Linked DNA regions of Homo sapiens. The protein of the gene in region 2 interacts with the protein of the main gene of each other region in a pairwise test. Each region holds a gene or a part of one and is shown on either strand. Other genes may lie near its edges.

Region 1 (9,853 bases), on a different chromosome or scaffold from region 2:
AAGATAAAATCACTTTTAAAATATTATTTCTAAATTTAGAAGATAATGCTAACTTCAAAAATTATATTCAACTGCTTCCTATGCAAGTAGGGATTAAAGGGTAGACAGAATAACAGAAAGCATACAACAGCTGCTTAAAAAGAGTGAGAAAACAAAGAGAATAGATAAATGTACTTTTTATGTAACTTTATCAAATAGAAAATTAAATACAAAATGTACACATTGCAAATAGGTAAGAGTAGACATGTAAGTATTTGTTAAATCTGAAATGTCTATTGTATAGATTGATTTATGACAGAAGACAAAATTAAAACAAGTAGGAAGTTAAAGAGAGGCAAATTTTATCTCAATTTAAGAATATTTTCATGAGGCATGGTGAAATGGTTACAGGCGTGATTACAGGCTCATGCCTGTAATCGCAGCACTTAGGGAGGCTGAGGCGGGAGGATCACCTTAGGTCAGGAGTTCAAGATCAACATGGCCAACATGGTGAAACCCCATCTCTACAAAAATACAAAAAATTAGCCAGGCATGGTGGCACATGCCTGTAGTCCCAGCTACTTGGGAGGCTGAGGCAGGAGAATTGCTTGAACCCGGCAGGCGGAGGTTGCAATGAGCCAAGATTGCACCACTGCACTCCAGACTGGGCGACAGAGCGCGACTCTGTCTCAAAAAAAAAAAAAAAGTATACATATACTTTAAACCTCTCAAAAGCCCCTCTCAATTCTAAAATTCTATCATTAAAGTTTTATCACAGGCTGGGCACGATGGCTCACACCTGTAATTCCAGCACATGAGGCCAGGAGTTTGAGACCAGCCTTGCCAACACGGCGAAACCCCATCTCTACTAAAAATACAAAAATTAGCCAGGCGTTGTGGTGCACATCTGTAATCCGAGCTACTCGGGAGTCTGAGGCATGAGAATCACTTGAACCTGGGAGGCGAAAGTGGCAGTGAGCTGAAATTGCACCACTCAACACTGCACTCCAGCCTGGATGACAGAGCAAGACTCTGTCTCCAAAGAAAAAAAAAAAGTTTGTTACAAAGTATTTTAAAATACCTAGTCATGTCAAGAGATTTCTGTAAGCAATTTTAATCACTGGATTTAATACTCCAATGGGATAAAGCTTTTAGATACATACTTTCAAGATAAGTATCTTAGAATCAAGAGAGATTTTTAAAAAGTATAAAACTACACTCCCCTAAGTTAAACCACAATTTTAACACAATTTCAATAAAGCGCTAAAAAATGTTTAGTGGAACAAGAAAAAATCAAATTCTACTATTCATCTAGAATACAAAAATGCAAAATGACTTTGTAAAAGGATAATGCAGCAGGCATTTTCCTGAAAGATAATATAAGAAACTAGGAAGCTATAGTAATTACACGTTTGGCACTGGCCAGGTAACAGAAAAATGGATGAACAGTACAGAGCCAAGAAAACAAAAAAGAGATCAATGTGTGTGAGTATTTGGTGTATGATATAGGAGATACTTTAATTCAACAGTGGGAGTATATAAAAGGCTAATGTCTATCTCACGACAGATAGAAATTAAATTCAGATAAATGAATAAGCAAAAAACTATAGAAAAGTTAGAACAAAATACAGGATTTATATATTTTTGGTAAAATAGGCACAAAACTCAGGAACCAGTAAGAATTAAAACAGAAGCACATTAAGGAAAAATAAAACTCCATATGATAAAAGACACCATAAACAAAGTTAAAAACATACCAACATTGGAGGAAATATGTTTAATATAGAAATAAAAGATTGAAGAGCATGTGTGTCTGTGCATGCATGCATGTGCATATTTGGTGTAAGGTTTTCAAAAGAATAAAATAGATGTTACTGTCCCTACAGAACCCCAAATGATTCAGAAAATTAACCAGACACTGAAAAAAGTATGGAGAAAAGGGGAAGAAGACAAGAAGGTAATGAAATGAAGACAGAACGTTTAGAAGAAGGTATACTTAATGAATCGTGAGAAATCTTCAACTTTCCCGCCCAGCTATGGGGATTTCAGAAGCTAGGTGTCCATTCCCCAAGTAAATAAAATTATCCTTTTCTAAACAAACTGCTTGGCTCAGGAATAAGATATAAGGTTACTATCACTGGGAATCCACCAGCAAAAAGAGTGGCCACATGATTACACTACTGTGAAACACCATAGGCCAACTGACAATGCCCCATACAAAACACACAGTGCTTCCATATGCTTGTGTTTTGTTTTGTTTGTTTGTTTGTTTGTTTGTTTGTTTTTGAGACAGGGTCTCGCTCTGTCACCCAGGCTGGAGTGCAATGTCACGATCTCAGCTAACTGCAACTTCTGCCTTCCAGGTTCAAGCAATTCTCCTACCTCAGCCTCCTGAGAAGCTGGGATTACAGACTCCTGCCAGCATGCCCAGCTAATTTTTTTGTATTTTAAGTAGAGACAGGGTTTCACCATGTTGGCCAGACTGGTCTCGAACTCCTGACCTCAAGTGATCCACTGTGCCTGGCTCATATAGCTTGTTAATATCTAATCTGTAATAGGAACAAAAATCCAGAGATCACATATCTCAGAGATGAAAATGGGTAAACAGAAAAATTTGAGAGGAAACCGTCCTGGGAACAGAGGAAAATCTCAACTATCCTTAGTATCATCAAAGAAATAACAAAAAGATATGCAGCCATGAAACAAGAATTGGAGAGTATAAAAAAAGGAACACTCAGAGAACAAGAAAGATTCTTGGATATTAAGAATCTGGGCCGGGCGTGGTGGCTCACGCCTGTAATCCCAGCACTTTGGGAGGCCAAGACGGGCGGATCACGAGGTCAGGAGATGCAGATCATCCTGGCTAACACGGTGAAACCCTGTCTCTACTAAAAATACAAAAAATTAGTCAGGCGTGGTGGCAGGTGCCTGTAGTCCCAGCTACTCAGGAGGCTGGTGCAGAAGAATGGCGTGAACCCAGGAGGTGGAGCTTGCAGTGAGCCGAGATCGAGCCACTGCACTCCACCCTGGGGGAGAGAGGGAGACTCTGTCTCAAAAAAAAAAATAATAATAATCTGATGGAAGATGTTAAAAATCCAATACAAGGGTCAAGGAAATACCTCAAAAAGCCAGACAAAGTCTAAGATATGAAAAATAGGAAGAAGAAAAGAAAAACTCAGTAATTAAAAGAAGAGGTCCAACATCCAACTATTAAAAACAACAGAGAAAATCAAGGCAAGGAAACTGTCAAAATAAGAATATCCATAATAATAACATTTCTAAGAATAGAAGGACATTAGAATCTCAGAATGAAAAGACTCACCCAATCACCCAATAATCACAATAAGAAAAAGAAAATCCACATCAAAGCTCATTTTTATAAAACTTCATTTACATCAGACCCAAAGAGAACATCCTAACAGCTTCCACAGAGGAAAAACACATTATAGAAAGAGAATCTATTCTGCAAGAATGGTATTGGACTTCTCAAAAGCAATAGCAGAAGCTATAAAGGAATAAATAATGCCTTCAAAGCTCTATGGAGAAAATAATTTTCAACTCCAAATTCTACAGCTTACCAAACCTTAAAATTATTTTTTCATCCAAGCATCCTTTAACAAGAAGTTATAGGACACACTCTTCTAAAAGTTGGACATGAAATCAAGAAAAGAGTGAGATCTAATAATAAACTCACCCAGAAGTGAGGTAAAGACATCTCCTAGAACCATGATGATAAGAAAATCCCAAGACAACTCTTGTACAGCAGAACTAGAAGACCAGTCCAGATTATAGTAGGAAGGTTTCCAGGAGACAGCTCAAAGGAGAGGAAAAAATGGGACTTACACATTTTTTAACAGATCTGATTGTATAGAAAGCTATATTTAAAGCCTTCTACAAAGCTGCTGGAGAGTATGAAAAAACCTTAAATGTTCAAAGAAAATTAGACAAACGGGAAAAATGAGGGGCAGGGGAGGAGCAATTAAAAACCAAAAAGGTTATAAAATGAAAAGACAGTATGATGAAAAATATTTATAGGTTTTTGATCTCTCTCTCTTTTTTTTTTTTTTTTGAGACAGGGTCTTGCTCTGTCATCCAGGCTGGAGTGCAGTGGCACGATCGATCTTGGCTCACTGCAACCTCCACCTCCCAGGTTCAAGCGATTCTCTTGCCTCAGCCTCCCGAGTAGCTAGAACTACAGGCATGCGCCACCATGCCCAGCTAATGTTTTTTGTTTTTGAGACAAGGTCTCACTCTGTCACTCAGGCTAGAGTGCAGTGGTGCAATCACAGCTCACTGCAGCCTCAACCTCCCAGGCTCAAGCGCTCCTCCCACTTCAGCCTCCCAAAGTGCTGGGATTACAGGTATAAGCCACTGTGCCCATCCTTATTTATGGATTTACAATGATTAAAAAAAAATACTGAAGCTGATTATTGAAACCTATTCTGTAGCTATATTGGAAAGATAAGGAATGAGAAAACAAAGTGTAAGTGGGTTAAAATTCTCACTTACCGTAACAGATACATAATGTCTACAGCTAACAGAGAAAGAAAGAAAGCAACATAGATCTACTGTTAAACACATGGTGGAAAATACCAGAAGAAAGAGCTAAAATATTTGAAGGGAGGTGGAGGTGGTACTTTTTGTTACAAGCAGTTTAACATTAGCTAACTTCTTAAGCAATATGCACATGCTTTTTTTTGAAAACCAAAAACAAGTACATTAGCAAACTACTGTAATCAAGAAAAAGATAATGTAATAGAAAAATGAGCAAATAATATCAACAGGTAATTTAAAAAATGGCTTATATAAGCATATGAGAACATGGTAAACCAGGATGAGCAATCAAGACATAAACAAATTAAAAGAGATGCCACTGGAGGTAAAACAAACAAAAAATGTGGCACAGCTGTGGGAAAATGATTATTTTCATACACTGTGGGAGTTTAGAATCGATACCATTTTTGAAGGAACATTTGATAAAACTGAGCTGTGTGTTCCCTTTGACAGAAGTTCCATTTCTAGTGCATTCTACAAAAAATATTGACTTGTACAGAGATGTTCACTGTAGCACTGATTATTTCCTATAAATAAGGATTTGGTGAAATAGAGTACTTTGGCTTATAAGATACTTTTTATAAAGTATTATAAAATACTTTTTGTAATTGTTAAAAAATATGGCAGGAAGAGATTCCCAAACATTATTAAAAAAAAAAAGTCAAAGAGCAGTATGAAAGCATACGCATAAACATGTACTTATACATATATCTGAAAGAACACACACCAAGCTATTAACCTTGAGGAGTGGAATTGGGGACATAAGAGGCATGGACTGTAGGAGGGCTTTATTATCTGCATTTTCAAATCATAAAGCTTAAGTTTATTACATGTATCATTTTTTTAACAATGGAATAGAAGTTAAACTTCCAGCTTAGCTTTCATGAGCTCTATTATCAACATCAGAATAATTATTTATATCATAAAAAACATTTCAGTATCAATGTTCCACATACCCTCTTATTGTATTGTTTGTCTCAGGATCACCAGGGTCCAATGTTTCTTTTAAGAAGTTTATATAATGTATCCAAAGGTCAACACTAAGAGGTATTGCCTGAAGCCCCCGCCGATAAACCTAAGAAGAAAACAGCAAACTGTACTTCAAATATTTAATTATTTCTTAACAGAGAGGCAACACTGTGTTATCCGGTGAACCTTAGAAATACTAATTACTGGAATTTTGTTTAAATAATCTACCATTACCATTTGGGTGGAGGTTGGATAGAACATGGCAATGTTCTGATCCCCACGTGCAGAGTCTTGATCTTCAAAGCGCAGCAGTCCCTGCATTCTGACCGGGTTGTGTGGGCAGGCTTTGGGTTACAGACCATAGGGCACAGACCCATTAGAGCATCAATGACAGCGTCTGACCAAAAATGCAATAAGACGTAGCAAATGTGACTAGCAAACCAACTATATTGTTTGGAAAATGAGAAATAAATGTAAGTGAGAGAAAAGCCCTGCCCTACTTGTTAAGCTGCAGTGTAATACAGAGGCTTGCACTGCAAAGCTTGACAAACTGTAGAGGTTTAACGCACCTGCCAACAAAGAGAGAAAATATTAGCTACAAATGCCACAAGAGTGACAAATGCAAATAAATACCCTATAAAAATTGTTTGACCATAAATGGTAGGTACTGCCAGCCAAAAAAAAAAAAAAAAAAAAATCTTTGTTTTGTTATTAATTGGCTTACAGTACCTATTGGAGATAAGTTTATTCAGTGATGTACGCACCTCATCTGATGGTTTAATGTTGTCGTGCCGCTTTTCAAGGTCTGCATACTTTTTCCAGTAACCATAGCAATACGGATAGTGTATGAAAAATCTGTCAAATGCCTTCCTGGCAGCCATCAAGTGATTCTGATAAAAATAAAACAGTATTTAAATATTGTGGAAATTTCTGTCAAAAAAATATTTATTATTCCTTTCAAACGTTATTATCTAAAAAAATAATAATAAATGGCAGGCTTAAAAACTCCACATGCAGGCTGCTCTGCCGATGGAGCAGCCCTTCTTTTATTCCTTTACTTTCTTAATAAACTTGCTTTCACTTAAAAAAAAAAAAAAAAAAAACCTACACAGGCAGCAGCCCCCTTTTTCTTCTAAACGCAATTGAAACAGAAGGAACTAATTTTGCCAACTTTTTATTTCAGCAATTTTACACACACATTTACACCTCAATTATTACAAAACATTAAGCTTTGACACTACTGACTCTCTACAACATACAAAAGCTGTAAGCTATTTTCAAAGCTAAAAATGTAGCTACCTAATGTTATTCAACTTCATTTGAAAATTATGAGTCAATTTTAATCATAAACAATAAGGTCTACTGTTTCATTATAAATTAATGACTTGATTAATTTGTCCCTTCTGATACCATTTTAATAGTTACTAACCTCCTGTTCTACATATTGAAGCAAATATACCCAGCCTGTAAAATCCTGAGGATTATTTTCTACAGTTTTCCAAAATTTTTCATATTCTGGAGGGAAATTTGCTTCTGTTTCTGTCAGCGTCACTGGAAGGTCCACAGCACTTGCCATTTCAGTTTCTTCTGTAGATGCATTCACATTGGGAGAGTCATCAGGTGACTGTTCCATTTCTGTAACGTTCATAATCTCAGTACTGAAATCAGTAGGATGTTCTACCACTACCTCTGAACTGTTGCCTGTGCTGCCATTACTAGAATTTCTGTATTCATCCATGTGAGAATTTTGCATATTGTCTTCAGTTAACGATCTGTGGAAACACGAAAAAAAGAGAAATATCTTCCAAATGCCAATAAAATTATTTGGCCTCAACAACACCTTTTAAAAAGCCCTAATTTAGCTATTAAAGAAATATTAATGTGAGTCTTAATCCCCTACAAGTCAGAATCAGAAGGTTCATTAGTTTTTATATTGTAAATAAAATTATAAATTCTTCACAAAACTGCCATTTTGTTGTTGGTATTTGAATGAAAACCAAATAACTGTGGATTTGTTACCTCATTCAAACAACAAATAAGTACACTGCCTGCTACCCAATGAAGAAATACTATTTAAAATTCAATGTTTCTTATTTAGGTAAGAATCTGATTCGGTGCCTGAATGTTACCTTGCTATCAATCACTGGAAAACGGCATATCTTTAACAACTGTTCTGGAGGCTAAAAGTAAAACTGACAAAAATTCTGGTCATGGGTATAAACATTTCAAAAGGAAGCTCATCACTTGGCTCAGGATAAAGTTTTAGAAAAGATAAAATCATATTGCTTAAATATATCTATATACTTACGATTTATAAATCCTGACAGCTAGGTTTCAACTTTATTATATAAGATATAAATTATGGCTTTAAAAAATTAAACAGTAATTTTTAAAGTGAATAAATGTTACTTAAAACACATTTAAGGGGCCAGGCATGGTGGCACACAGCTGCAGTCCCAGCTACTCAGGAGATGCTGTGGCAGGAGGATCACCTGAGCCCAGAAGTTCAAGGCTGCTGTAAGCATTGACCCTGCTACGATACTCCAGCCTGGGCAACAGAGCACGACCCTACCTCTAAAAAACATATTTGAGAAAGGCTTACAGTCTGGATAATAACTACATAATATACTTAAAATTATGTCATCTAATTTTTAAGGCTATAAGGTAATAAGCAATTACCCCTTTAAGGTAATACCACATTATATTTTCATAATTACCTTCATCTCTTCCACTAACAGCTTAAATGGAAACCAAATCATTAAATTATAGGGCATGTCTCATTTTTTTTAAAATGAGGAATTATTCTCAAAATTAAGCAGACCATAAAACTGATTTACTCTTAAAATATACTTAGAATATACTACTACTTAATATATTAATAGTAGTTAATTAAAAAGATGACTAAAACTTTAAAGACAATAATGCAAAGGAAGAAATGCAAATGACCAATAAACATAAAAAAGACCTATATCTTTACTAATAAAGACATAAATCAAAATAATGAGTGTACCAAATAGCAACTGTACATATTTTATACTATGGAAATAATCAGAAAAAACATGTATTTGTTTAAGGGCATTCATTACCAGCACTGTTGTACAGCAAAACTGGAGGGTGTATTAAGAAAAAGACTGCTTTGGCCGGGCGTGGTGGCTCATGCCTGTAATCCCAGCACTTTGGGAGGCTGAGGCAGGCGGATCACCTGAGGTTGGGAGTTCGAGACCAGCCTCACCAACAAGGAGAAACCCTGTCTCTACTAAAAATACCAAATTAGCCGGGCGTGGTGGCACATGCCTGTAATCCCAGCTACTCAGGAGGCTGAGGCAGGAGACTCTCTTGAACCTGGGAGGAGGAGGGTACAGTGAGCCGAGATCATGCCATTGCACTCCAGCCTGGGCAACAAGAGTGAAACTCCGTCTCAAAAAAAAAAAAAGAAAAGAAAAAGACTGCTTTAATAAATAGTATACTCGGCCAGGCACGGTGGCTCATGCCCGTAATCCCAGCACTTTGGGAGGCCGAGGAGGGTAGACCACCTGAGGTCAGGAGTTCAAGACCAGCCTGTCCAACATGGTGAAACCCCATCTCTACTAAAAATACAAAAAATTAGCAGGGTGTGGTGGCACACGTCTGTAGTTCCAGCTACTCGGGAGGCTGAGGCAGGAGTATCACTTGAACCCGGGAGGTGAAGGTTGCAGTGAGCCAAGATCGTGCCACTGCACTCCAGCCTGGGCAATACAGTGAGATTCCGTCTCAAAAAAAAAAAAATAAATCATATATAATGGAATAATAAGAATTAAAAAGGAAATATGTACATCTGTATTGATACAGAAAAATATCCATTATAGATTTTTTAAATACATATATATGCATACACACATGCACTCACAGATTTGTAAGGATTTACACCAAATAAAATAAAATACAAAACTGGCAGCTGGTGTTAACAATTGTTCTCCATACAAAAGAGAGATGTGTGCTTTATTCTTTTTGCCTATCTGCAATTACTTAACTGAATGGGGGGAGAAGTTTTTTGTTATTTTTTTAAAAAGCCAGCTATAAGTTGACTGGATACATTTTTTTTTTAACAATTTTATGACTACCATACTATAAAAATCTGAGTTTCACTACCGTCTATGCAGAAATTTGCAAATCTGGCTCCAAACAAGTCAACTAGTAAGCTGTTTAAAACTAATATAGATTCCTTACCGACTACAATGATTCTGAGGTCTAGGGAAGGGCCAAGAAAGTTATACTTCTACCAAGTTCTCTAAATAATTCAGAAAAACAGAAACTTGTTTGTGGGTAAACTCTGGAGAGTATAACTTTTGGATTGAAGAATAATACTAAATTT
Region 2 (7,615 bases):
ACTTTCCCCGAGTTCATTAAATGAGCTCTGAACAAGCCTATCCGGAAGAAGTTCCTTGGTAAGTCCCAACACGAACAGCCAGGAAGCCTCTAGAAGGAGAAGCCGGGCGCGGGCCAGGCCTGCGGGAATGCAGGAGGAGGGGGTGCCGGGAAGGCCAGGCCGGGCCCAGGGATCCGGGGGCTGCGAACGCGCCGCACAGTGAGGGTCGGTCCATCCTGCGCAGCGGGCCTGGTGCCTCCAGTGGGGTCCGTGATGAAGGGCAAAAAAAAAAAAAAAAAAAAAAAGGAAAATACGTGAGAGAAGAGCCTTTCAAACCTGAATGTGGAAAAACTTTCCTAATGATAAACAGAAATCCAGGAACGATAAGGAAAAAGATGAACACGTGACAACATTAAAAAAGAAAATTTTACACGGGACAAAATCATTAGCAACATAAACAAATGATAAAGCAGGGAAAGAACGTGCAGTGTATATCGCGCAGTTACCGTCTATAACGTGAAAAGAGCCGAGGAGACAAAAGAAAAAGGCAGCCCCACGGGAAACACGGGCCCGGAATGCAAGGCTGTGCTCAAACTCGCTCCTAAAAAAAGAAATCCTGACTGGGCGCGGTGGCTCACACCTGGAATCCCAGCACTTTGGGAGGCCGAGGCAGGTGGATCATGAGGTCAGGAGATCGAGACCATCCTGGCTAACACGGTGAAACCCCGTCTCTACTAAAAATACAAAAAAATCAGCCGGGCGTGGTGGCGGGCGCCTGTAGTCCCAGCTACTCGGGAGGCTGAGGCAGGAGAATGGCGTGAACCCGGGAGGCGGAGCTTGCAGTGAGCCAAGATCGCGCCACTGCACTCCAGCCTGGGTGACAGAGTGAGACCCTGTCTCAACAAAAAAATAAATAAATAAATAAAATTAAAAAATAAAAATACAAAAAATAAAAAATAAAGAGATCCTAACTGCAGCTGCACCAAGACAGCACTGGGACAGAGAGGCCAGACCGGCGATGGGGACGCCCGGCGATGGGGACGCCCGGCGATGGGGACAGGGCACCAGGAAGCAGGTTGGGATTTGGGCAGGGGAGGCGGGTCCATCTTTGCTCAGGAGTCCCACGCCCAGGGGTCTTTTCCACAGAAGAACTGATGCCATCAGTCATAGCCACAGAGGTAACGGCTGGAAGTTTGCTGTGGAGTCAACACTGCAGAAAGGCCACATTCAGGTGGAGGCAGGGAACCGGCGGGCATGCCTCGGGGGTTGGGCAGCAGAGAGGGGGCAGACACCCCACCGTGTCCATGGACGCTCCAGCAACGCGTCCGTGCCCGGGTGCCAGGGTGGCTCGGGGTCTCTAGAGTGCTGCTCACATTTATGGGCGCTTTGCTCCCTAAGCATGAGCCAGTCATCACTAGGGGCTCAGACTCCTGAGATGGGGGTGCCACGGTCCCAGTGGGCTCTCTCAGAACGGGGTCGTGTTCCACGCTCACTCCCAGATGGAAATGGCCTGGAAATGAAAAGGCACCACAGAACCACCCAGTGGGGAGAGGGTGCCTGGGCTGGAAGAGCAGACCCACGCCCACTGCCACTGTTGAGGGAGGAGCACCTGGGACTTCCCTCCTCTAATTCAATCTGGGAAGCAAAGGCCAGGCTTGGTCTGAAGGTGTAAGGTTCCTGCTCCCAGTCTGTTGACGAGTGAACTCTGATTCTGACTGATTCGTTACTCCTGCGTATTGTGAATTAAGTTAAAAAATACTCGGGAACAAACATGGTAAACCTTCCCTTAAAGGACTTTATTTCTCTATTTTTATATGGATCATTTATTAAATTAGAAGACTAAAAAGTAAAAATATATTTTACAATCAAAGAAAAATCTGGACAATGGACCCCAGTAAAATAATCAGAAGCGCACGTTCTGAGACCACTCCTGCCTGGCACCCTGCAGGGTAGCGCCCAGGGAGCATCTGCAGAGGGGAGAGGAGAGGAGGGGGAGCCTCCGGCGACCTGTCTTCTATCTCCGGAGCCCCGCCTGAGGCTCCAAGATGGCACAGTCAGGCTGTCCTTAGTGACCGCTGCCACGGAGCTGGCGATCGGCCTGCATCTTCAAACCCAGGAGCAGGAGCAGCAGAGGCTGGCAAGGCCTGGGCCCTCAGACACCAGGGGCCTAAACCCAGCTCCCAAACCCACTGCAGCCTCCCCTTGTGAGCTGGCAGACAAGCCTGTCCTTCTGAGTGTGACGACCTCATCCACACCTGACACAGGCGGGGGCGGGGGAGGGTGGGGGTTGTGAACCAGCTAATTCTGGGGACCGCTCGGAGGGGCTCAGCAAGCTGCTTCTACAGTAAGCCACTTCTACAGTAAGCCTTCAAACAGGAAATAAAGCATAAAATGAAGGAAAGAAGAATCTTATTTAATTAAAGGCCTTGCAAAATGTGATTTGTCTATTAAAAAAATAAAGCGCTTGTGAAAAAGAAAACTAAGAGATGGCGGCAAGCGTGGTCATCGGCAAAGGGTTGCTCTCCCTCCAGCGAGGCTGGCCCCCACTGTGTGGGTCCCTCGGGCCCCCACACGGGCTGCTCAAGGGCTGGCAGCAGGGGCCACGTCCTCTCTAGGAGACACCCACAGAGCCACATGTGCACGCGTGTGGCAGTCTCACTGCACCCCAGCAACGCGAAGGCAGAAACCGGTGCTGGTGGCCACACCTGGGCGCCTGGACACCGAAGCCCCCAGCACAGTGAGGCCTCTGAGTGTGGCTTGTGGTCTGTCCTGGGTTAGAGTTGTTAATATCACGGAACATACCATCTAGAACGTTCCAGTCCCGCCTGACACCTTCATTCCCAATGGAGAAGAAATCTACACAGGCGTAAGACCAGGCCATCTGAGACAGGGAATCCCAGGGGCCCCTCCGTCTGAGTGGTCGGCGTCTGCTGAACAAATACCATGTCTTTCTTCTTCAAAGGATCAAAGGCCTTTAGGACCCACAGCTGAAGAAGGCGCCTGCTGCCAGCATGTCCCTCCCCCACGGCCACCACACACTTCAAGTTTACAAAAATAAATATTTATCAACAGTATATTTGACAAAAACCACCCCCAATCGATGGCAGAAAGCAGTATTTTCTAGCTGGCACTGAAACTTAACCTATTTTTTTGAGGGAGAAAAAGACTAAAATGTAAGCACTAACTTCCTCCTTCTGCATCTTCCACAGAAGACCCACTTGTGGGCATTCTCTTTCTGTCCGTTATCAGTGGGTTTACATCCGAAGGCCGGCGGCAAGACACTTGAACCACAAACACCAGACATGCAGGTGTCTCAATGGCATGCAGATTATTTAAAGTGCATCACTTGTGAGAAGCTTCTCAAATTTCTGACTGTCATAACCAGGTGTCACCTAAAATCTGTCCTGTAGGCCAAGATGCTACACGCAGCGCCCAGGCAGTCAGAGGTAAGTGAGCGCCTCCCGCCTCAGAAAGCTTTTACAGGGCCACGCTCGCCAGGCTTTCCTCGCCCACGCTGAACCCACGTCCTGGGCACAGCAGCTCCCAAGCTGTCAGCAGTCGGCTGGCAGTGCCACCACACCCTCTCGGAATCATGCACAGTGCTGCCTCTATCACCTCTCACCCCAGCCTCGCAAGGCCTGTTGAGAAGAGAAGCTCCCTGGGAGGACACCCACGGAGCTGGCACGAGCGCAGCAGGAGAGACGGACGGCAGCCTCCGGCGGGCGAAGGACCCGGCTTCAGATGCCCGCTGGCTGGCAATCAGGCAGAGCCTGGCCAACCGTGCCAGGCCCCCTTCCTCACTCCAGGTGTGGGTTCATTCTGCCTTCAGGCCGGAGTCTGTCACAAGGCTGGCTGGACAGTGGCCAGGTGAGCCAGGCCAGAGGCCGGCCCCACACCATCCACAGGAAGCTGCTCAGCTCACCAGACCCAAGCCCTGGGCAGGGGCCAGGCTCACAGCAAAGCGCGTTAGGGCAAGGGCGTGAGTTTTCGTCTGGGAAGTTCTAAAAAAAACCCACAGTGTGAGGGATTGTGTGTGCCTTAAATCAACAGCTCTATTCCAATTACATCACATCACAAAATGCCATGAATGGAATCGGAAGGCGCTCCACCACCTCCAACACCCTGGCAGAAGCAGCTGCTCTCTACAGCAAGAGCATTTTCCAGAACGGCATGAGAAGGAGAGACGCACGTCCCAGGGACAGGAGAGCGCGCTGAGACCTCCCAGCACGAGATGGGAGGGGAGCCCCCGCCCCGTCCTGGACCGCCAGGAACCGAAAACCCACATGCACCCAAGAACAGGTGTGGACGGGGCGGCACAGAAGTCCACGGGAGGGGGCGACACGGGTGCTCTTTCACGGGAATCTTGTTGGGACAGCATTCCTTGGGGAGCGCCGGGTCGGCGTGTCCAAAGAGCGGGGGCAAAACGGCATCGAGGCAGAGGCTCTATGGCTCCTCCCCCATCTGCAGCAGGGAGTTGATGGCGGCATCCTTGTTCCCTCGCTGGGCTTCCAGCACGGAGCGGATCACCTCCTGGTCCATGTTGGGGAACATGTCCTGGATGGCTTTCAGGTCCTCCTCGCTACAGCGGGGCTGGGCGTTCACGGCGGCCGGGGGCAGGGCCACGGGCACCATGCCGGGGCTACAGACAGCGGGCATCCCTGGAAGCAAAGATCAAGTTTGGTAAAAACGTCGGAAAGTTCCAGAAGTGCCACACTAGCTCCTGCTGAAGGAAGAAAACAACGCATCCCACCGGCCTCCCTGAGGAAGGGGCCACCTCGGGTCTCAGCAAACACCAGTCCCGCAAGACACCCTGGAAAGGCAAACCCCCAAACAGCAACCCCAGGCACAGCCACGGGGAAGGTGGGCAGGGCCCTCTGTGACGCCTCCTTCACTAACTCATCTTCCTTCCATATAAAAATCAAAGTTTGATCTTTCAAATCTCACCCGAGTCTGTTTTATAACTAGCAGGCTGGGGGTGGTGTTTTGATCCCTTCAGAACTCGTGAATTTGCACTGCACACGCTCGTCTTCACTGACCAGTGGGCTCACAGAGTCCTCTGCATCTGGGGACGGACTACACGGAATGTCACGCCCGCTGATCCAAACACTGCACGGTCTGAGCCTCTTCCTTTATCAGGCATTCTAGAAGATGCTTTTGCAGCTTGGCAAGTGTGTCACTAAACTGTGTGCCGGTGGGGAACAATCACCACAGGCACTGAAGACCTCAGCAAAGCTGCAGCCGATGCCCAGAATGACAACCCCACACACACATACAAACTACACCAAGAAAATGCTCACAAAACTCAAACAAGTGGGGCAGCAGGTGCGGTGTACAGTGGACCCTCAGTGCACTGGGGCCACCGTCCAGGGTTCCTGGCATCTCCACCCCACAGCTACGCAGGCCCCTCGCCCCATGTCTGATGCGGGAGGACACACTGAGATGCAATCTATCGAGCAGGAGACGCACGGCGGTTCAGCCACTGCAGCACACACACCCCTGAAGGCACCGTGTGGCCGGACTTAAGACTCGCCTCCCAGCCTGGTGGCCGCTCCCTAAAACCACGAGCAGCCCTGAGCACAGGCAGCGTGCGCGGGGCTCAGCGACCAGTGAGGCACAGAGCACAGGCAGCGTGCGCGGGGCTCGGCGACCAGCGAGGCACAGAGCTCCTCCTGCAGCAGCAGCTGCAGCAGTGCAAGGGTTCACTGCTCACCCGTTCATTCACCTTTAAAAGCACGAACCATCTCCCAGCTAGGATCACTGGAGCGCTAGAGCCCCAATCTTAGGATAGGACTTTTGTTCCTTTCTACACTTGGAGGATCCTAAAGGCAGCAGAAGCCACTTCAATCCTGGCCTGAACCAACACCAGCAACAAGACCTGCAGGGGTGTAAACGGAGCAGACAGGGCTTGCCACCAAGCCTCCTGCACCTGCTGCAAAGGCCAGGACTCCTCAGCAAGGAAGGCCACCGCTTCCCGGCTCCTTCTAGGCCAGGCCGACTCTTCCTCCACACCCACCCCTGCCTCCTCTGCTTCTCGGCTCTCTCAGGGCCAGGCCCACCTTTCCTCCACACCCACACCTGCCTCTTGTCCTGGCCACTGGACACCTCACCTCACTGGGGAAGCATCATCCCCATGCTCATCAGCCTTTCGGCAATGACGGAAAACGAACCGAACCATGGCCAGGTGGGGACGTGGCCACCCTCACCACCCTTTCTTCTTCCTCAAACAAGACAAAGGCTTGGGCGCTGTCTGTCCTGGAGGGACCCCTGGGATCCCCGTGGCTTTTTGGGCGCCCCGGCTGGCAGGCGGGCAGGAACTTGGCCATCACCTGTCCCTGCCCATACAGCTCCCCACAGCATGGCAACAAGAGGAATGGGGCTCGGCCATCGCCTGTCCCTGCCCACACGTCTCCCCACAGCGTGGCAACATGAGGAACGGAGGCACCGTGCTCCCACTCTCTCCAGCCTTTACCAGTCTGATGGGGAAGGGACAGGAGGAGGGGAACTGCTGCAAAATCGATGACGGTGGCTGTGACGCTGCGACGTCACGGCCTGGGGTGTCCCGAGAAACCTGCTCTGCTGACAATGAGGGGATGTGGCGCCGACTGGCCCTCAAGTGAATCCCAACAGCACGGCCCCAACACACTCACTTGGGGAGCAGGCACCCCCGGGGGAAGAGGTGGGTGCTTCCACGGTGTGGGCTGAGGGGCAGTGGCCTGGCTCACTCCCCTCCTTCCTGCAGGGCAGAGGCCATGTGCCTGGCCTGAGCCGGCCCATCCTGGTTACCAAGCACGGATGTGTCCATCAAGCCCTCCGGGAACGGTGAGCGTATGTGTCAAGGCTGCCTGGGGACTTCAGGAGGACAGACCAGGAGCTCTGGGGCCTGGCGGAGAGCAAAGTCCCCAAAATGTGGGCAGAGAGGACGCCATGGGAGCCCGGGGCAGCCCAGAGCCCACCTGTAGCGGCCCTGGGAGGAGTGATGGGCGGCTTTGCTGTGTCCCTGCCATCTGCCGCGCTCAGCCCCACCAGCCACCTGCACGCACGCGGACGGATGTGCAGCACAGGACAGGCCCCACCTCACGTTCTTCACGCCGTGTGAATCTGCTGTCATATCTTGGCAAAATCAAATTCTCTACTGACAAACACAAGGATACCCAGGAAAACCAAAACTTGTCCCTTTTCCATTCAGGAAAAATTGCTCCGAGAAGGCCCTGATCTCAGACCACGCAGCATGGTAAGTCCCGGCCGCCGGTGGGCAGGGGAGCATCAGCCCTGCTCAGGCTGAAGGCATGTGGCCCTGGGCTCCAGACGTCTCGCACCACAGTGGAAAGACATCCAAAGAGCAGGTGGGGACGACCGTCCAGCTCAGAGACTGTTCCGGAACTCCCAAGGCTTGTTGCTGCTTCTCACTCCACAGAGCGTTATCACAAAGAAGAAAACCTACGTGATTCTTTGTTTCAAAGCGACCAAGTTAGCGGGTTAATAAACACAACAGCAGAGAGTTCCATGTGATAGTTTGTCTCGGAAACTTTTAAGCATCCAATTCTCATTTTGAATGGAACCATTTCGTATTTTAAATGGCATGTGCTGCTCAGCTGCAAACTCCCTATTCGCTGGAATTCCACGTGCGAGGGGAAGC
Region 3 (8,360 bases), on a different chromosome or scaffold from region 2:
TATTCAACAGATTGATAGATATTTATTGAGTCCCAATTACGTAGTAGTCAGATACTATACAAGATGCTGGAGATACAATGGTGAACAAGACAGAAGAGGTGCCTACCTTCAGGGAGTTCCAGTGCAGAAGACAGGCAGTGTGGAAGGAGATCTTCTTCACTGTTTTATAGGAAGGGAAGAAGAATGGGATGTGGTGAAATTTGACAATTACACAGGAGCAAGATCATGGTCAGAGGTTTGAATTTTTGTTTTCTTAAGAACATTAGAAAGTTACTGGAGGCTTTTGAACTAGGAGAAAACACACTTTATTTTTTAAAGGCCACAGTAGCTGGTATTTAGGAATAACCCTGTAGAGTGGAAGGAGAGTGGGACGAGGGAAGCCAATGAGGAGGCTCTGGCAGTGGCTCAGGGCAGAGATGATGGTGTGATGAGGTGACAGCAGAGAGAGTGAAGAAGTGTGATGGATTTGAGCTATGTTTTGGAGGCAAAGCTGACTGGACCTGGGGACAGAGGGGTTGAAGGAATTATCATTAAGAAAGAAATTTAGTTTGTGTTCTAAGCAGTTTGGTGGTAGTGTTATTTACTGAGATGAGAAAGGCTGGAGAAGAAGTGAGTGTCTAGGAGAAAATTAAGAGCTTAAGTTTTGACATGTTAAAAATTATTTGTACATGAATATTCATAGCAGTATATTTATAACAGCCAAAATTGGAAACAATGTAAAAACCTGTTAACTGATGAATAGATAAGCGAAGTGTGGTATATTCATACAATGGAATGCTATTTGACAATAAAGAATACTGATATGTGTGATGACATGGATGAATATTGAAAATATTGGGCTAAGAGAAAGAAATCATACACAAAAGGCCACATACTGTGTGATTCAATTTATGTGAGGTGTCCAGAATAGGAAAACCCACAGAGACAGAACTTAATTTTGTGTCCAGGTGGTGTACAACATTTGGGAAGAATCTTTAAAAGCTACCATCGGCCGGGCACGGTGGCTCACGCCTGTAATCCCAGCACTTTGGGAGGCTGAGGCGGGTGGATCACCTGAGGTCAGGAGTTTGCGACCAGCCTGGCCAACATGCTGAAACCCCGTATCTACTAAAAATACAAAAAATTGGCCAGTTGTGGTGGTGGGCGCCTGTAAATCCCAGCTACTTGGAAGGCTGAGGCAGGAGAACCACTTGAACCCGGGAGGCAGAGGTTGCAGTGAGGCGAAATCGTGCCACTGCACTCCAGCCTGGGCGACAGAGCGAGACTCCGTCTCAAAACAAACAAACAAACAAACAAACAAACAAACACTACCGTCACTTGCCCCATTCCTCTTGCCTTGTTTGTAATATTTCAGATAATGAAAGCACTGTCAGCTTAAGTCTTATGAATGAGAACTTAGTTTAGTTGTTGTAAATTGGGAGTGACTTTTAGTGGTTATGGAGTTTCTTTTTGGGGTAAAGAAAATGTTCTGAAATTGGTTAGTGGTGATGGACTCTATAAATACACTAAAACCCACTGTATACTTTTTGTACACTTTTGGGTGAATTTTATCATATGTGAATTACATCTCAGTAAAGGTGCTATTCCAAAGATGGTTTGATGTGGTATTCTGTTCTGAGTTTTCTAGAAAGCAGAGTTTCAGGTGAAGGGCTCATGTACTATTGCTTTCTTCAGGAGAAGGAGCGAAGGGTAAGGGAAGTGAAGCAGGGAAGGTGGAGTGCTCAAATGAAGATGCCTCATCCAGTTGACCATAGCTAAGCAATTATGTGCTGGATTCCATGACACTATTCCCCAAGAAGCTGCCTAACCCTCTTAGGACTGTCTCAGGCAAGTCTGTCCATGGAGAAAAGGGGAGAATATATCCACACTTCCATTTCTTTTTGGTCGAAGTTTTGCTCCACAGGGCATTAACTGCCCTACACTTCAGGTTTTGCAAGCATGGGCCCTAGATAGGCTCCCCAGTCTCTATCCTAGCTATTAAAGGTGAAGTCCCCAGGTGGGGGATGACAGATATCTGGTGAGGGGACTGATGTAAAGCTCCATCATGTTGTACCAGCTTGAGGTGAGTTGGAACCTACACCAAGATGATTCCTATAGGGGCAGCTGCATAAGAGGTGGGAGAGGCTGGGAGGCTATGAGTGGGGTCTGATCCTTGCCTGATAAAAGTTCTCAAATTTCCAAGTGAATATGTCATGTAGGCTCCTTATTGCTTATTTTTTTCCTTGTAAATACTATGTGTCAATTCATTTTCTCTTTTCTTTAAAGAAAATACATGCATTCAAATAAATCAAATAAAATCTGGTGTTAGAACTAATCTCTCCCCCCACCAAATCAATTGGCATTGAGGGATTTTCTTTGTAAAACTAATATTTATGGCAACTTTTCCCTCAATTAGAGTACATAGTGATTAGGGGGAAATGGAGAAAAGAAAACAAAGAAAAGGAATTAAAGCTACATGCTAATCTACAACCAAAGGCTGACTAATATTACATGAATTGCACAAACAACTTATAAAACCTCTATATTTAAAATTGTTCAGGATTAGAATTATCAGGACCATTTTACATTATGATATGTAAAGTTCTAAAAAACTTTTTATGTCTGCCCTCATCTAATCTTTTGAAATATGTGTTAAAATCTGTTAAAATTATTTTAGCCCATGTAAGGAATAGAAATTCAGTGGAAGTCATTAATGTTGTTCGGTGACATTGTAGGCTTTCGCCCTCCAGGCACATAGTAGCATTGCTCTTCGTGACCTGTGAAGTTAGATGTGGCTGTGGAACTTACTTTAGGAAATGAGGAGAGTGTGGAAATGGTGTATAACACTTGAGGAGAGCCTTTAAAAGCTACCATGGCTTGCCCCATTCATTTTCCCCTGTTTGTCATATTTCAGATAATCAAAGCACTGTCAGCTTGAGTCTTTTGAGTGAAAATGATGTGTATCCAAGACAGTCACCAATGTGAGAGGAATTCATAGTGTGAGCAGGCAATACATTTCTGAACATGGAAATTTTGGATGTCTGTCTGTTATAGCAGCAAAAACTAGCCTTTGTTTTTTTGTTTTCTAGTTTTTAGCAGCAAAAGCTAGATCGATGTGTTCTTCAAAAAATAATGCAATGAATTATAGATTTGAGGCATGTAGAAGCTATATCCCTTTAAAGCCTTAATGACATATCAAAAGCAGGATAGTAAAGTAGTTAAGAGCATGGCTTGGAGGTAGATGGCATGGGTTTGGAGATTGATTCTGCTGACTATTAACCATGTGACCTTCAGTAATTCTCTTAAACCCTCTGGACTCGGTTTTCTTATAAAGAATCATAATACCCACATCATAAGATCATTATAAAAATTAAATGAATTAACACTTGTCAAATGCTTGGAATAGTGCATAGTAAGCCTTCTTACTATATATAGAGGTAAAATATATAATTAAGTAGTATGTGCAAATTCTTTAGAACAGAGTCTAGCACAGAGTAAGTCCTTAATGATATTTTTTGTTATTATCAATCTTAAAAATCATTGAATAGCAATCGAGTACTTGGCTGATAATTTTCTCTGGGTATGTCTAGTAAGAGATAGGAAAGTGAAAACAAGCTAAGGAGAAAATATAAGTTTTTCTTTTGATTATGGGTAACAAAACCAGCAGTCACATAGGTGGGTTTTACCTCTGAGGAGACACTTGAACACATTGCTGTTACCTTCCCTTTCTAATCAGGTGTGTCCTGAGACAAGAAGCAGAGAGCATCAAGAAATGGAAGAGGACAAACTAAAGCTTTTTCTTTAATTACCTCTATCATCCAGAGTTAAGGGAAATAAGTCACCAGCGACTGAAACCAAACACTCCTGCCAATGAGAGATAAGCATCTCTGGGCAATTTCACACAGCCCAGCAAAAGCTTTTTTGAATTCTCATGACAAACCAGCCCTGGAATTTATCAGGATGATTTATTCATCAGAATTACCTGAGATACCCATTACAAATAGAGATTTCCAGAATCTCAGGTGGTGGTGGGAGAGGAGAGCTCCTGGAATTCTGAATTTCAAGCGAATTCTTTAGAAGATTCTTCTACCTGCTTACATTTGAGAACCCTAAATCCAGTCCTGTGGTTTATACGGAGTAACTGAAATACCACTGCCACCTGGTGGCAGCATGTACAAATTACAGGTTCCAATGTCATTGTGTGATAGAATCAGTAGTGAAATTTTTCAAGTCACGCGTAATTCTTAGTCACCCCTGCCCTCTCCTAATCACAAACGTATTTTTGAGTTTTCTGGATTATCTGATACAGAGTTTATATAATTTAAACCCTGAGGACACAACCTCTTACCATTTTAATTCATTCTTTTTGTTAAACTGAATTTGAAATTATAACTTATTTTTCTTTAACTTTCTCTATATACTCTTATGACATTTAATTAATTTGTAGAATAAAAGAAATCATATCCACTTATAGAACATTCTTTAGGCAGCTCTCTGTCAGAGAAACTGAGAGAGATAGAATCTTAAAGAGAGAGGGATGTCTGAGAGGAATGATTAGTTTTGCATATTGGACTCTGTGATTGTCTGTTAAGATGGAAATAAAAAAAGGAATTGGTATTCAGGAAGTTTTTTCTTCTACTTTCAGAGAATTCTGACTTTGATTCACATATAAAAAGATGATGTCGTAAACCTTTGAATTGGAATAGACTTAGCTTTGCTGAGCTCAGATCCTTCCTGGTTTACGTTCTTCATGAGAATTGGTTATGTAAGGCAAAATAAGAGCAGAAGGAAGTGTTGCATCCTTAAATATAACTGGTATTTCATAATGGATCATGGCATTCAGGCTTGTTTTATAGGAGTCAGTAAGAAGCAAGTGTGGTATAACATGACTCTGAAATTGAGCATCATCCCACTCAGCGCCAGTGTGGCAACTCCAGAAAGACAGTTTGGCAATGTTCAAGATGATTTACAAGCAAACATGGTATGTTCTCCATGAAAAAATAAAATATGTATTAACAAACAGAATGCTCATAAATGAAATTGATGAAAATTACTTGCAGGTTATTCACAGCCAACTTATTATTTGGCACCATTGCAGCCTCTGTAAAAACACCTGGTTGGATAGATTTGTGTAGCAGTGCTTTTTAAAATAAAAAATACATTTTGAGTTAAAATTTGTATAACACAAACCAAGGCATTTTAAAGGTAACAATTCAGTGATATTTAGTACATTCCAAATGTTTTGCAACATTGTCTAGTTCCAAATGATTTTCTTCACTCCAAAAGGAAACTCTGTACCCATTAACTAGTTGGTATACAATTGTTTTAAAAGGGCACATGGGTGAATTTCAAGAGGTTATAGAATTTCAGTTTGATGTTTCAAAATAATGTTCAAAAGACCTCAATATATGGCTTTGTCTTGGCTTGAAGTGTTTGCATTCTTGCCAAAGCTTTTTTAGTTTAGCTATGTCAGTTGGGAAGAGTTTATAATCAGAGGATTTAAAGAGTCTCACATGATGCAATCAAGAACAGTAGTTAAACTATGGGACTCTGATGAAAAGAATTCGATTGCGTGTCAAGCATGGTCACTGGCTTTAAAATAGTACAGAGAAAAGCCAACAAAAATGTGGGCAATGAGTCTGTGCATTCCTTATAAGCATTTTATTAGAAAAGAATGAGATTACCTATGCAAATTAGTGGGAAGATGTTTAGACAGATGTGTTGTGCCCACCAGCTTGAGGTATAAAAAGCCCTGTACGGGAAGAGACCTTCATTAACACTTGGGTAACTTACCCTTCACAATCCATCTAAATCCTTCTCAATTGCTGCCACCATGACTCGTTACTTCTGCTGTGGAAGCTACTTCCCAGGATACCCTATCTATGGGACCAACTTCCATGGGACCTTCAGAGCCACCCCCTTGAACTGTGTTGTGCCTCTGGGCTCTCCCCTGAACTATGGCTGTGGATGCAATGGCTACAGCTCCCTGGGCTACAGCTTTGGTGGTAGCAACATCAACAACCTGGGCGGCTGCTATGGTGGTAGCTTCTATAGGCCATGGGGCTCTGGCTCTGGCTTTGGCTACAGCACCTACTGATGGACCAATGGCTCCAGTGACTACAGGACTCTCAATTAATTCTCTGCACAGAACAACCTGAAGAGCAATGACTGTCTTCCTACCTTCCCATGTGCTTGGGTGATACATCTTCCATCTTCTTGCTGACTTCTTGCTGTGGTCTTTGTCTTTGATGCTGTTGGACAAGTCACCCAGGACTCAGGTGCTGAACTGATACTCATCTACAGACAAAGGAAGCAAGATGCATTTTTTTGGTCATACTTGAATTTTAACAGTGAAAAAGTAGTTTGCCTCCCATGGTTGCTCTGCTCATGTATTATTAGCTTCTACATCAACATTAATGTATTACAAATTGGGTGTGGGTAGTAAGGGGATTTTCTGTCAGTCTCTTAATAAATCTATTTCCTTCAGCATAAATATTTTTGTCCTGGTTATTTATTTCACTTCTCTTTTATGCTCTTGAATTCATCAATCAGTTTAAACCCGTAATGGTTGACTTTAACCAAATTTTATTCTGATTTCAGACTATATAGCCAGGATAGGGTGATGCCTAACCATTTTTTATTTTTATATTGATATTTCAATTTAAAAAACTCCCTGGAAATGTCCCGTATTTAACCCAGATATACTGCAATTGTTGGCGTTTCTCAAAGCTGATTATAAAACAGGAATATTTCTTAGCTGTTGAATGCTAAAACATGTTTTCTTTTCTCTTTTCCTTAGTGACAAGATTCCATTTTGGTTCATTTCTCCTTTCCTACTGTTTATAGAACTCAGCTCTGGGGAGATTTGAACCCCTCATGTTGTTGGAAGAATTGGAACTAAATAGACTTAGTTATGAAACTCTATCTTTAAGAGTTCCTAAGATTTGATCAATAAAGGGAAGCCAACTACTAAAATCACATATTATTTTTTATCCTTTTTTGATAGATGGGTTTATTTTCTCCACTTTCTTCACCTCTGATTATACATATAACTAGTACTAAAAATGAAGTGTTTATTCTTTGAAATAATAGTTGCCATCAAAAGCACTTGAAATGGTATGTTGTCTACACTTAGAAAATGCTCCCTGTCGATCTAGAACTAGAAATAACATTTGACCCAGCCATCCCATTACTGGGTATATACCCAAAGGTCTATAAATCATGCTGCTATAAAGACACATGCACACGTATGTTTATTGCGGCACTATTCACAATAGCAAAGACTTGGAACCAACCCAAATGTCCAACAATGATAGACTGGATTAAGAAAATGTGGCACATATACACCATGGAATACTATGCAGCCATAAAAAATGATGAGTTCATGTCCTTTGTAGGGACATGGATGAAATTAGAAATCATCATTCTCAGTAAACTATCGCAAGAACAAAAAACCAAACACCGCATATTCTCACTCATAGGTGGGAATTGAACAACGAGATCACATGGACACAGGAAGGGGAATATCACACTCTGGGGACTGTTGTGGGGTGGGAGGTAGGGGGAGGGATAGCATTGGGAGATATACCTAATGCTAGATGACGAGTTAGTGGGTGCAGCGCACCAGCATGGCACATGTATACATATCTAACTAACCTGCACAATGTGCACATGTACCCTAAAACTTAAAGTATAATAATAAAAGAAAAAAAAAAGAAAATGCTCCCTGTCTTGCTTACTGAAAAATCTCTGCTTTATTGAAGCAAAACACTTTATGTTTGAATTAAAACTCATTCATTCACATATCATGTATTTATTGCACCTCTGCCTGAGAGAAGGTGCTTGATTAATTGTTCATTGACTTTACTTGTTAAATCTCTGCTTTATGGGTGCAAAATATTGTATTGTCCAATGTAAAGTTCATTCATGCATGCATCAGGTATTATTGGGCTGTGGCCACTGTGTTAAGATATTTACAGTTGTAAAAACAACTAAGCAGAGGTGTTTTTGATATGAGAAGCTGACTGTCTTCGAGATTTATTCATTCAAGAGGTACTCATCACATAGTATAGCACAGCATTGTCTTAAGATTTGGGGACACAAATCTTAGAGATAACTGAAACACAATTTATGCCCTTAAGAATTAAATACACTTTATTCAATATTTAAAGGGCTTTTAATAGTCTCCTATTTCATGTCAATCAATGTGCTGTAAATGACTATCCAAAGACAGATAGATATTCCTTACTCATTTGCTTCCTAGGACCTAAAATTGGAGACAGTCTGTGATAAGAACCATGTATACACACAAAGTGTTACAGGCTTGCATAGAAGGGAAGCTTCGGTACGTAAACATGACCATGAGAGGGAGTAAGAGTTAC
Region 4 (3,815 bases), on a different chromosome or scaffold from region 2:
GTAAACGGAATGCGATTTCACACACTCCTGAAAGGGGAGCCGGCTTCCATCCCCCAGCCCAGCGAATGCGCCTCGTTACCATGTCCACTTGCAAACAGCTATAAGGACCCTTTTCCTCAGTTTTAAGTTTGATGTGTTGGTAGCTGGGAGATTTCAAGTTCAAGATTTTCCCTTGATCATGTACAAATGATTTAGATGCTGGCCGATCTCCGCCTCACCACTTATTTAAAGCTTATCTTTCACTGTACTTTTTCTGAAAAACTCCTCGCAGCAATTCCACCTCTTTTCCATAAGTAACAAGCTGCCAGAGGAAACATTTCAAAGTATTTCAGTAGTTTCAGTTCACTCCCCACCACCACCAATCACCCCAACATGGCTGAATCTGGCCACAACTCTTGGTTGACTTACATTAAAATATTAAAAAAGACCAGCTTCCCCCTCATGTGGGTAGCACTTTCGAGCTAAGCCCAGCTAAGAACAGAGAACACCTCTTAAAATAATTGTGAGTTTGGACAAACTTTACTGCAATAAAACAAATGCTTAATTTAATTCAGAATAAGAGATAACTCTTCAATAAAATATATCAAATTGTACAAGCACCCTTTCAAAGGGATAAAGGTATACCGGAGGGAGGGGACAGATGGACAGGAAGGTGAAATACCAGGGAACTTAATGGGCTGTTTGACAATCCCATTTTCACCAAGTCAAAACATGGCTTTACCTTCTGCCCCCCAACATGTAAAAAAGTATATAAAATTTTCTAATAAGTTTAGGACATACAACAGGTACACACACAGAGAAAGCATATTTTTTTTTCTTTCTGGATCTACTAATTGTTCAAGAATATTTAGCATATAGGTAATGGTTACAAGATACTCATTTTTTAAGCAGAAAATTACTAAACCCCCACCCAAATCACCTTTGCAATCTGTGAGGATGAATGTACCTAGTATTTCTCAGAAACCATCAATTCCTCTCAACAGGTTTTAACATTTTACTCTCCAATTATCTGAAATAAAGTTACCAACAGCCTTGAGAAGAATTAGGAAGTATTTCTAATTTTCTACCTCACCTCCAGGCAGTCTCAGGATTCTTCTCATCCCAGGTATTGGTCTTACAAAAATATTCTTAAAAAAGGAAAAACTTTAAAAATATGTGTGTGGTGGGGCGGTGGGGGGCGGGGGAGAGATAGGAACAACTGTAGTATATAAAGAGGTTTCTTTTAATGCAAGTAAAATGCAGAAATATGATGTGTCCCCTTCACTTTGAATAATCTCTCCATATCTAATATTTTCTGTGTGCATTGTGTCTGTTTCTTTGTTTTCCATAAGCAGAAGTCAATAATCCCGTAAAAATCATTGACTTTAGCACATTTTGCAAATAATTTGTCTCCCTCTTTAAGAAAATACAACAAATGGACTTACACAGTGTCTTTTGGGAAGGTGAGATATAGAAAAAAAGCACATATGTATATAAATTTTGCCTTTTAAAATAATTTGAATTTTTACGTCTGCTGTATAAAAATGTATTATATTTTATTATATATATATATTTATACATAAAAACCATCAGAGCCAATCTTTGTGAAAGGAAAAGGGGGCATCTGGAAGATTACACCAAGAAAACAGGGCTTGGTGCCTCCGCCTACAGAACAAATTTCAGCTATGTCGTGTGGCCCTGTCAGCCTAGCCGCTTAGGGTGGTGCACGCAGGGTTAGCAGAGCAGGAGTACTGGCTGGTACTGCCTTCGTGGAGAGGGAGAGGAAACCCTTTGAAACAAGCATCCATCATGGAGTCTATTGATCTGGTCTTCCTTAGGACAGGTGGTACATGCCATATCCCACTGGCGTGGCATAGAGTCCCACAGGCGGGATGGGAAGCACAGGTCTATGGAACGGGTAGGATGCTCCATATATGGACGCTGCCTGCAGGGGCGAGCTGATGGGGAAAGGGAGACTGAAGCTGGAGGGCAGCATAGGTTTTGCAGCCATTTTCAGCTTTTCCAGTTCTGCCTCCTGCAGTCTTTTCGCCTTGGCCCTTCGGTTCTGGAACCAGATTTTGACCTGGGTCTCTGTGAGGTTCAGAGAGCTGGAGAACTCTGCACGCTCTGCAATGGAGAGGTACTGTTTCTGACGGAACTTGCGCTCCAGGGCGAGGAGCTGGGATGTGGTAAAGGGCGTGCGCGGCTTCCGATTGGTCTTGTGTTTCCTCAGGGTGCAGGTGGTAGGGCTCATATGTCCTAGAGAACAGAGAGAGGAGCGGATTAGCAAAAGAAAGTTACATTAAAATAATACTAAAAAAAACCCATCTCCCCCGTCATCTCTCTAGGTTTTTTCCTTTCGGGCCTCCCCTCTCAACTGAAAGCACTTAGCTTTAAAAAAATCTATATATACATACATATACACACACACACACACACACACACACACATATCTATGTATGGAAAGACATACTTTGTTTCATCTTTGAAAAAGGTACCTTTGTCAAAACTATGTGTGTTTCTTGGGGGGAGGGGGACCATATATAAATGGGTAAGTTGCTTCGTTTTTTAAAAATGAGTTTTTTAAGAAAAGTTTTGGAAATGTAATGGTGTAACTGAACCTTCTATATGGAAAACAAACAGCATTAGAGATAACAGAAATAGAACATTTAATGTAAGACAAGGGAATCAAGTGGTCGGTGAGAAATGAACCGCTATCTCTTCTGAGCATAATTTATCTTCTCTTTAAAAATGGGAGACCAGGTTCATGATTAGCCCAGCCTCCCTTGGACATGGAGACAATCACATATGGGAAGGAAAATGAAAAAGGTTTTAGCAACCGGGTTAGCTGTTTCCCTTGGTCTCCTCTCTGAACCAGAAAAAGTGGATTGCGTCAGCATATTTATGAAGGATAATCGTGCAGATAAGGTCTGTGGTAAATTAATAGCATCTTTGAATTTGGGGGCAGTCCCACGCAATAAACAGTCACAAGCTGTCATTGCATCCAGTCCACAGATTATAAAATCTGAACATCATTTTACAGATCTGGATGTGGGATAAGGTTCTTGGCTGGGCGCTTCTGTAATATAAACTTTACTAAGACGAAGGGAAAAATTAGCTAGCCCATAAATGTAAATGTCAGGGGAAATCATGCTGCCTCCAAATTGAGAGCACGTGATGACATCTTAGTCATCCCCTCTACCCATTCTATGGCTTCGGGCAAATGTGTAAATGATTTGTTTGTCAGGGGGAAAAACAAGCAAAATAAAGGTATGCCAACAGCATCCAGACTCCACATTTAAAATGGATTCAATTACAGCAAATCACGGACTGGGACATCCTTGTGATTCCATAGCATCAACTAACTTTGGGCTTGTCTTCCTCAAGGGTGGGTGGGCGGAGGAGGATAGAGCTGTGGTGATAGAATACTTAACAATTAATTTTCTGCATTTGGCTTTTACGAGCTATGCTAATTTTCCAAATGTGGCCACAGTATTAACTCTAATGTATTCATGGGAGAATGTTGCATTTCTTGTTTAGTTACTTTGGTGGCCCAAGAAAGAGTTTACACTTCATACTTGAGGGTGACACAGCACAAGTCCCAACCCAGCTTCCATTTCCAACAAGAGATGGATTTGTTCCAGTGTCGCATTATTACCCATCACTTTACTGAATCAAAAAGAGATAAGAGGCTTTGTAACCAACCAAAGAACAGAAATCTGGGAAAGGGAAGGATAAGAAACTACCATAAAAGTCTATACTTTTGCATTTGCTAATCCCTAAGTTACTAGACAGCCGGGGAGCCAGCTTCTTAATTTACAAATTAACAACACTGT

Evidence for each region.
Region 1: the proteins of TOLLIP (region 2) and PRPF39 interact in binary tests that used the Homo sapiens proteins (3 or more experiments, as listed by UniProt).
Region 3: the proteins of TOLLIP (region 2) and KRTAP7-1 interact in binary tests that used the Homo sapiens proteins (3 or more experiments, as listed by UniProt).
Region 4: the proteins of TOLLIP (region 2) and MSX2 interact in binary tests that used the Homo sapiens proteins (3 or more experiments, as listed by UniProt).

Annotation. Positions count from the first base shown.
Region 1 is NC_000014.9:45,092,642-45,102,494, reverse strand, and holds part of PRPF39 (pre-mRNA-processing factor 39), read right to left. Parts: intron 7,275-9,853; 5' UTR 7,256-7,274; coding exon 6,932-7,255; intron 6,393-6,931; coding exon 6,267-6,392; intron 5,609-6,266; coding exon 5,490-5,608; intron 1-5,489. UniProt on the Homo sapiens protein: Involved in pre-mRNA splicing.
Region 2 is NC_000011.10:1,272,617-1,280,231, forward strand, and holds the end of TOLLIP (toll-interacting protein), read right to left. Parts: intron 4,638-7,615; coding exon 4,423-4,637; 3' UTR 1,755-4,422; downstream 1-1,754. UniProt on the Homo sapiens protein: Component of the signaling pathway of IL-1 and Toll-like receptors. Inhibits cell activation by microbial products. Recruits IRAK1 to the IL-1 receptor complex. Inhibits IRAK1 phosphorylation and kinase activity.
Region 3 is NC_000021.9:30,827,151-30,835,510, reverse strand, and holds KRTAP7-1 (keratin-associated protein 7-1), read left to right. Parts: upstream 1-5,751; 5' UTR 5,752-5,812; coding exon 5,813-6,076; 3' UTR 6,077-6,472; downstream 6,473-8,360. UniProt on the Homo sapiens protein: In the hair cortex, hair keratin intermediate filaments are embedded in an interfilamentous matrix, consisting of hair keratin-associated proteins (KRTAP), which are essential for the formation of a rigid and resistant hair shaft through their extensive disulfide bond cross-linking with abundant cysteine residues of hair keratins.
Region 4 is NC_000005.10:174,727,582-174,731,396, reverse strand, and holds the end of MSX2 (homeobox protein MSX-2), read right to left. Parts: intron 2,239-3,815; coding exon 1,814-2,238; 3' UTR 501-1,813; downstream 1-500. UniProt on the Homo sapiens protein: Acts as a transcriptional regulator in bone development. Represses the ALPL promoter activity and antagonizes the stimulatory effect of DLX5 on ALPL expression during osteoblast differentiation. Probable morphogenetic role.